Linked DNA regions of Homo sapiens: all the other regions are linked to region 2. Evidence: fine-mapped QTL for protein levels in blood plasma. Region 2 holds a variant in brackets. A gene starts in each other region. All regions are shown on their reverse strands. Region 1 holds the start of SIGLEC1 (sialic acid binding Ig like lectin 1). Region 2 overlaps B4GALT1 (beta-1,4-galactosyltransferase 1). Region 3 holds the start of CSF1R (colony stimulating factor 1 receptor).

Evidence for each region. PIP is the posterior inclusion probability: the model's chance that the variant is causal. The UK Biobank Pharma Proteomics Project read protein levels with antibody pairs (Olink). The fine-mapping took linkage between variants from a reference panel, not from the people measured, so its PIPs are less certain.
Region 1: SIGLEC1 starts here. The variant in region 2 is fine-mapped to the plasma level of the SIGLEC1 protein (UK Biobank, PIP 0.99).
Region 3: it holds the start of CSF1R, and the variant in region 2 is fine-mapped to the plasma level of the CSF1R protein (UK Biobank, PIP 0.95).

The regions. Positions count from the first base shown.
Region 1 is chr20:3,711,453-3,714,296 of GRCh38, reverse strand. SIGLEC1 (sialic acid binding Ig like lectin 1) reads left to right here and starts at 1,697. Exons shown (of 22, transcript NM_023068.4): 1 at 1,697-1,827.
Region 2 is chr9:33,116,128-33,118,627 of GRCh38, reverse strand. The region is part of intron 3 of B4GALT1 (beta-1,4-galactosyltransferase 1); the gene reads left to right. Among named protein-coding and RNA genes, the nearest start is that of MIR12117, 8.7 kb to the right of the region's middle. The variant G/A (reference allele first, on the strand shown) is at 1,102.
Region 3 is chr5:150,084,882-150,087,725 of GRCh38, reverse strand. CSF1R (colony stimulating factor 1 receptor) reads left to right here and starts at 1,172. Exons shown (of 21, transcript NM_001288705.3): 1 at 1,172-1,347. The coding sequence starts at 1,299. RefSeq lists an enhancer at 1,085-1,114 and a promoter at 867-1,299.

The DNA of each region.
Region 1 (2,844 bases), not on the chromosome of region 2:
GTGTTTTGGCCGAAAGAGGAAATGGCCCAAGCATAGGAGTGGACACAGGAGCTATAAAGAGGAACAGAGTGATAGAGACCTAATATCTCTGTAGCCTGAGCATTTCAGGGTGGAATGTCACCAGACATCTGCTTTGGGGCACCATGGCCTGCGATTCTGGATCCACCCTGATTTAGGGTTTCACATCCTTTTACACCTGCACACGTGGCCTTGCCCTCAGGGTACAGGGGCCTAATTTGCTGTGGCCAGCTCCCCACCAGTACAGGTAGGCAGGGACTGAGTTGAATTAAGTTTGAGTTGTGAAATTAAAAAAAAAAATGGCCAGGAGTGGTGGCTTACGCCTGTAGTTCCAGCACTTTGGGAGGTCGAGGTGGGAGAGTCACTTGAGCCCAGGTGTTTGAGACCAGCCTGGGAACATAGGGAGACTCCGTCTCTACAAAATAACTTAAAAAATTAGCCGTGCATAGTGGCAAGCGCCTGTAATCCCGGCTTCTTAGGAGGCTGAAGCAGGAGGATTGCTTAAGCCTAGAATTTCGAAGCTGCAGTGAGCCAAAGTGAGCCAAGATTGCACCAGGACACCCCAGCCTGGGCGACAGAGCAAGACACTGTCTCAAAAAACAAAAACAAACAAACAAACAAAAACCAAAAAAAGTCTTGTTGCTTGTATCTGGGATTGCTTGGAGCAATTAACATCTGCTTCACATGTCAAGTGCCTGCACAAACTAGGCCCTCAATAAGATGGGCTGCAGTAATGTAACAGTAACTAGCTGTGGTGGGGGCTTTCCTTTCCTGTCCCAAGGTGGGGGTGAAGGTATAGGATAGTGGCCGGGTGCAGCGGCTCACCTCTGTAATCCCAGAACTTTGGGAGGCCGAGGCAGGCAGATTACTTGGGGTCAGGAGTTCAAGACCAACCTGGACAACATGGTGAAACCCCGTCTCTACCAAAAATACAAAAATTAGCCGGATGTGGTGGTGCATGCCTGTAATCCCAGCTACTCGAGAGGCTGAGGCAAGATGATCACTTGAACTCGGGAGGTGGAGGTTGCCGTGAGCTGAGATTGTGCCACCGCACTCCAGCCTGGACGACAGAGTGAGACTCCATCTCAAAAGCAAAAACAAAACAAAAAGAAAAAAACCAACAACAAGAAGCCAAAAACCAAAAAACGTACAGGACAGTGAGAGGGGAAAGAGAAAACCTGAGGAGTGTCCTGGACATTGGGGCCTTATGTCCCCCACAACACGGGACTGCCTCTTGGGGGTTCTTAAGAGTACTCAGTGGTACAGGGAGGCTCCTGAATGGCTTGGAGAATAACTGCCTTGGTCTGGGCATCGTGTAGTGCATCCCCACCCCAGGCTGGGCGCGCCTCCCTCTCAGGTGTCAGGGAGGAGAGCTGTGTGCAGGAAGCCCCCTTCCACCTCCCCCAGCCTCCCTAAGGGGCTCAGAGAGAGTGGGGTGTGGATTTGGCTGGTGAATGGGAGTCCCCCACTCCATTTCTCACTTTGCCTGGGGAGGCTCCAGCGTTGCAGCGGTCCCACTTCTGCTTGCTGGAGTCCCTAAGTCCCTGGCCTTGCCGAGGGCCTTCCCCTATGGAGGTCTTTCCCGTTTTGGCATTGCGCAAGGCCTGCAGCTGCCTCCCTGACCAGCCTCTGGGTTGGACAGTAGAGCTGAGGCTTTGGGAAAGAGGAAGCAGCCCCTGATACGGGATCCTTCTCTCTTGAGCCGGCAGAGCCCTGGGGAGCCAGCTGCACCAGGAGCTCTTGGCCGTCCTTCCTGTTCTCCTCTCCGCAGGTCCAGCACCGCCGCAGCCACTTCCTTCTGTGGAGCAGGTACCCCTGTCCCTGGTCCCTGGGCCCAGAGGGTGAGTGGAGCATTAGGAGCGGGGCTGGGCTGAAACTGGCTGAGCGGGATAGGGGCAGGGGTCGGGGGGGGGCTCCATCTGGGTGCGAGTGGTGGACCCCAAACCAACCCAAGTCCAAGACACTAATCAAAGATGGACTCAACTGAAACCCTTCCACCACCCCCAAATCCTTCCAACCTGCATCCCAATCCCAGTCCCGACCATCACCCTGCTCTGACCCTACCTCAGCCCCAGCCCCAGCCCCTATTCCAACCTTATCTCACCCTCACCTCACTTGCACCCCAACCCTAACCATTTACTCATCTCATCTAATCCCAACCATCCATCATCCCAACCCTAACCACAACTCCGACTCTATCATCCTCATCTCAACCCAGCCTCCACCGTATCTTAACCATCACCTGCACCCAACTCCAACCTTCACCCTTACCCCCACCCATCACTCAACCTCAATGTCCACCCCAATCCCAGCCTTAATTTGCTTCCAGAATTCCAACCTGATCATCACCCTGACCTCAGCCCCAGCCCAGCCCAACGATAATCTCTCCTTACTCTAACCCCAGCACAATTCCACTTCATCCATCACCACTTCGTCCGTCCACAGGAGGGCTTCTGGTGCTGTCCAGCACAGTTTGGAGAGTGAGCACTCCAGCCAGAAGCATTTAGAGCCAGATTAAGGAATGAAGTGTGAAATTTCTACTGCCCATGTCAAAGCCAATAAGCATTAGTTATGGATTCTATGGCTCTGAGAATTAAACATTTGGCCTGTGATTGGGGATTTCCACTATTTTGACCATAATCTGCTCCAGGAATTGCCCATCCGTACCCTGACTCCCTATCTGTGGGCCAGTAACCTCCAGCTGGCCATGTCACCCTGTGTTCTTCCTTCTCTAGCCCAATGGGGAAGTTGGGGAGAAGCCTTGGTGTCAGGAAACAGAAACTGAATCCTACACCCGGGCCTAGCTGTCCATAGGGAAACTGCCTC
Region 2 (2,500 bases):
CGTGATCATGGCTCACTATAGCCTTAAACTCCCTGGCTCAAGTGATCCTCTCACCTCGGCTTTCCTAGTAGCTGGGACCACAGGTGTGGGCCAGCACCCCTGGCTGATTTAAAAAAAAAAAAATTTTTTTTTTTAGAGATGTCTCACTATGTTACCCAGGCTGGTCTTGAACTCCTGGGGGCTCAAGCAATCCTCCTGCTTTGACCTCCCAAAGTGCTGGGATGACAGGCATGAACTACTGCACCTGCTGAGATGCAACAGCTTTCTGTCAGACTCATTTTATTCTCATCATTTCTTCCTGTCCTCCCTTGCTGGGAGCATGAGAGCTGTGATGGGAATATAGGAATGTATGAAGTCCTTCTCCCAGATCAAAAATCCTAACTTCTTGTCTTAAAGGGAGGAAAATTTGAATGTAACCTTACTTTTAGACTCTTCAGAAATCCTTCTATACCCTTCCGTCCCCGCTTTCACCCTTCCTCCCTCTCCGTGTGTGTATCTTCTTCTCTTGAAACACACAGGTTTATACCCTGACCCCTCTTGATTCATCCCTTGAAGCACAGTGGTGAACAAGGAAGGGGCCCGTGATGCCCTAATTCTTTGCCACAGCACCATGTTTGTTTCACAAGGAGCCTGGCAGGTTTGGGCTTGGGGCAGATAGGGGAGAGAAAGCAGCAGAGACAGCAAAACCAAATCATGTCAGCTTGGCATGTACTTCCCTCTGAAATAGCTAAGAATCCATTTCTGTAAAAGCACTGATTATCAGAAAACCTTATTGGCCTGGCCACCTTTGGTTCAAACCCTCACATTAATAATGTGGACAGTAGTATGAGGTGTGCCAAAGGTGGATGACTCAGCACCTAAGTGATGACACCTAATTACGAATAGGTTCATTAAAGCAGACCCCCTGGGGACCTTTGCTTGAGGATCCTTACAGTCAGAATTCCTGAATATATTTGAAAATAATAATTGCATCTTTATTTTCATATGTTCTGTATGGTTTGGCTGACTTCCCCCTCAAAGTCTGAGTTAGAGTTTTCCTTAATTTATGTGATGGGTTTGGTCTTTTTGGATTCCAGAAAGAGCTGGGTGTGGTTTGGAGCT[G/A]CACTCAGAGTCACACAAAACCACAGCCTTTAGAGAACCCACAGGAAGGCTTTGGGGCACGTCCTGATTCTTGACATTTCTCATCAGTGCTGACTTTGTATCCCTTAGGAGTTCACAATTCATAACCACTGAAATATTAAAATACAAAAAGTTTTGGAAGGATGAGAGCCCAGATGCTCTACTACTTGAAAATATGTTAAAACATAAGTTCATCATTATACATTTTGCTAAATCAGGATAAAGTCTGAAGTTTCAAAGAAGTTTTATTTTAGCAAATTTTCAGAAACACTGCCTCAACTGTTAGGGCCAGTGTTCTAGTCAGTATGCCTTTGGAAGCATGAAAGCTGGATTGGTCGATAGGATGGGTGTGGAAGGGGGGCTGTGACTGGGTGGGTACAGAGAGGCTCTGAAACAATCTCAGATTCCAGGAGTTCCTGGATAAGGACTTCATGTGCGGGAACAGAGCACAGGAGAAGCAGATTCCTGAGCCACTCAGGAAGAACTGGGCCTAGGCCTGCTCTTGTCACTGACTGGCTTTCTACATAACCACAGAAACAGCACTGTGTTGTAGAAAGAGGAAGATCATACTTTTTGATATCTGTGTCTAATTTAAGGTCATCTGAGCCCTGATAGAAAAGCAAAACAGACAAAACCCTTGTAACTGCTCCCTCCCACCCCACCCACCATCAAAAAAGCTTTAGAGAGGCTGGACATGGTGGCTCTTGCCTGTGATCCCAGCACTTTGGGAGGCTAAGGTGGGTGGATCACCTGAGGTCAGGAGTTCGAGACCAGCCTGACCAATATGGTGAAACCCCATCTGTACTAAAAATACAAAAATTAGCCAGGTGTGGTGGCACACGCCTGTAGTCCCAGCTACTTGGGAGGCTGAGACAGGAGAATTACTTGAAAACCTGGGAGGCGGAGGTTGCAGTGAGCCGAGATCACGCCATTGTACTCCAGCCTGGGCTACAGAGCGAGACTCCTTCAAAAAAAAAAAAAAAAAAAGATCCGGTTTGGTGTCTTACAACTGTAATCCCAGCACTTTGGGAGGCCGAGGCCGGTGGATCACGAGGTTAAGAGATCAAGACCATCCTGACCAACATGGTGAAACCCTGTCTCTACTAAAAATTAGCTGGGCGTGGTGGCAGGCGCCTGTAGTCCCAGCTCCTCAGGAGGCTGAGGCAGAAGAATCGCTTGAACCCGGGAGGCGGAAGTTGCAGTGAGCCTAGATCGCGCCCCTGCACTCCAGCCTGGCAACAGAGCAAGACTACGTCTCAAAAAAAAAATAAATAAAAACTCTAGAGAAGCAAAAAGAATAACTTTAAAAGTGTTTATGTTCTCAGCAAGCTTTATTTTGGGGATGTCAGAACTTAACTAACCACTGCTCCTTCTGTGTGTA
Region 3 (2,844 bases), not on the chromosome of region 2:
AGAAATGACCATGTTCTTTAGAGATAAGAAGTAAAATACTAAGCGAATCAACTAAAAGAGGTAAAAGCAATTGCCTCCAGGAAAAGAGGGAGCAAAGGAATGCTATATATTTTAAGAATTATGCAGAACAATTAGATTCTTTGTAAAAATAAATAAACAATGTAAGTAACGCACAAAAGATAGTTTTATAACCAGACTGCTGGGATCCAAATCCTATCTCCACCATTTGGTAGCTGTTTGACTATGGACAAGCTTAAGGCATTTGATCTCTCTGAGCTTTAGTTTTCCCATCTGTGAAATGAGAATGACAATAGTACTTACCTACATAAAGTTTTGCAGTACTAAAGGAGACAGTGAATGTAAAAGGTTTGGCTAGTAAATGTCCTGTAAAAGGAAGCTTATTGCCAATATTATCAGGCTCTCCCAGACCAACCTGTATACAGGAAGAAAACAAACTCCGTTTCTCCTATAGTCTCACAACACAAAATACTTCTGACCCCAGATGTAGAGGATGGGGCATATTTCCCCATACACCAAGCAATCAACCAATTGTTCAGATTCTGCAGCAGACACGAATCTGGTGCCCTCCGATTCAATTTGAACACTATATTTACCTAGAGATAACGTCAGATCTCACAGCTTGAAGGCTTGAGCCAGGAGTTTGAGGCTGCAGTGAGCTATGATCGAGCCACAGAGCTCCAGCCTGGGCAACAGAGTGAAACTGCGTCTCTAAAATAATAATAATAAATTTTTAAAAGATATGCATTACTTTGGAGATTCCAAGGATTTTAGGAGTTGTAAGCCAGGACATCAGGGTAAAGAAAAAATATATATGTCACAATATCATGCAACCTAACTTCTCTTTGGGATCTGCCAGAGCCACCTGATCACTCTGAAGACCCTCATTTGTGCTACTGACTAACGGTCTGGCTGCTCTTGGACATGTCTCTTCTCCCAAGACCCCTTGAAGATGGCTTTAGAAGGGCCCCAAACTTAGCTAGCTCCCCCCAAGCTCAGGCTGGCCCTGCCCCAGACTGCGACCCCTCCCTCTTGGGTTCAAGGCTTTGTTTTCTTCTTAAAGACCCAAGATTTCCAAACTCTGTGGTTGCCTTGCCTAGCTAAAAGGGGAAGAAGAGGATCAGCCCAAGGAGGAGGAAGAGGAAAACAAGACAAACAGCCAGTGCAGAGGAGAGGAACGTGTGTCCAGTGTCCCGATCCCTGCGGAGCTAGTAGCTGAGAGCTCTGTGCCCTGGGCACCTTGCAGCCCTGCACCTGCCTGCCACTTCCCCACCGAGGCCATGGGCCCAGGAGTTCTGCTGCTCCTGCTGGTGGCCACAGCTTGGCATGGTAAGAGCAGAACGGGGGGTGGGGGACTTTGTTGGGGTGTGATGGAGAAGACCCCTGTGAAAGGATTCAGTCCTTGCCCCTCACTGGGTGTCCTCAGGCTGTTTTAGTCTCCCCAACACTGGACTGCAGGCTTGTGGGTATCTGCTTTGGAGAGGTAGTGGGGTGAAAAGAGATGGGTGTGGTGGAACTGGTCCACCTGGTGCTGTGGATCTGTCCCAGCTCTGCCAGCGACTCACTGTGTGTCCTGAGCAAGCCTCTGATACTCTTGAGGCTTCAGTGTCCACTTCTATTCAATTGCAGGTGTTGGGGGCAGGGGGACAGTGATAGACTAGACCAGAGCAGTGCTTTTCATACTTTCCTGTGCATACAAGTTACCTGAGGATTTTGTTACAATGCAGATTCAGACTCAGTCGGTCTCAGGTGCGACCTGAGATTCTGTATATCCAACACACTCCTGGGAGATGTGAGATGCCGGCACTGCTGGTCCAGACCTACACTGAGTTGGGAGGACCTGGAGAGCTCCTGATGGCTCTGGCAGCTCTGCCAGCCTGTGATTCGATGATTCTATGCAAGATCTGATTTGGAAGGGCCTGATAGGGGTGGTGGTTCTTCCTTGGGTGGCTTGTGTAAGGGGTCAGAGGGGAGAGACAAGAGGTTGGCCTCTCTGGCCCAGGGCTCAGGAGAGGGGAATTCGGGGTGAAATAGGTATAGGGCTAGAGGAGGGATTGGGAAGAGGCCAGTGAGGGTCTCCTGGACCAGAGCCCTCCCAGACACAGGCTGCCAAGTCTCAGGAGGTCCCCAGGCTGTAGCAGTTCTGCAGAATTTCCATCTGGGAGGGAACATGACTAGAGGTGAGGGGCTGCTGTGCTTGGCTTGTTGGCCCAACAAACACATTTCTATTGCCTGCTTATTCAAAGGGACCTTGGGGGAGGATGGGGATTGAAGGGGAGAAAGGACAGCCTCATACTGGCCTCTTCACAGAAGGACCCTAAGGCCGTGGCGCTTCTGGTCCCTGATGAGGAGGAGATGGCCCACTGACCATCCTTCTCTGGCCCAGGCAATCACACTGAGCTTGAGTATTTGGGTTTTTTTTTTTTTTTTCCTGAGACAGAGTCTCTCTCTGTCACCAGGCTGGAGTACAGTGGCACAATCTCGGCTCACTGCAACCTCCACCTCCCGGGTTCAAGTGTTTCTCCTGTCTCAGCCTCCCAAGCTGGGATTACAGGCATACACCATCATGACTGGCTAATTTTTGTATTTTTAGTAGAGATGGGATTTCACCATGTTGGCCAAGCTGGTCTCGAACTCCTGACCTCAGGTGATCCACCTGCCTTGGCCTCCCAAAGTGTTGGGATTACTGGTGTGAGTCACGGCGCCCGGCCTGGACTTCTTATTTTGCAATGTAACTTACATGCAGTAGAAAGCACAGGTTCTTAAGTTCAATGAGGTCTGACAAATGCACACACAGTGTACCCGCCACCCCCTTCATCTCAGAGA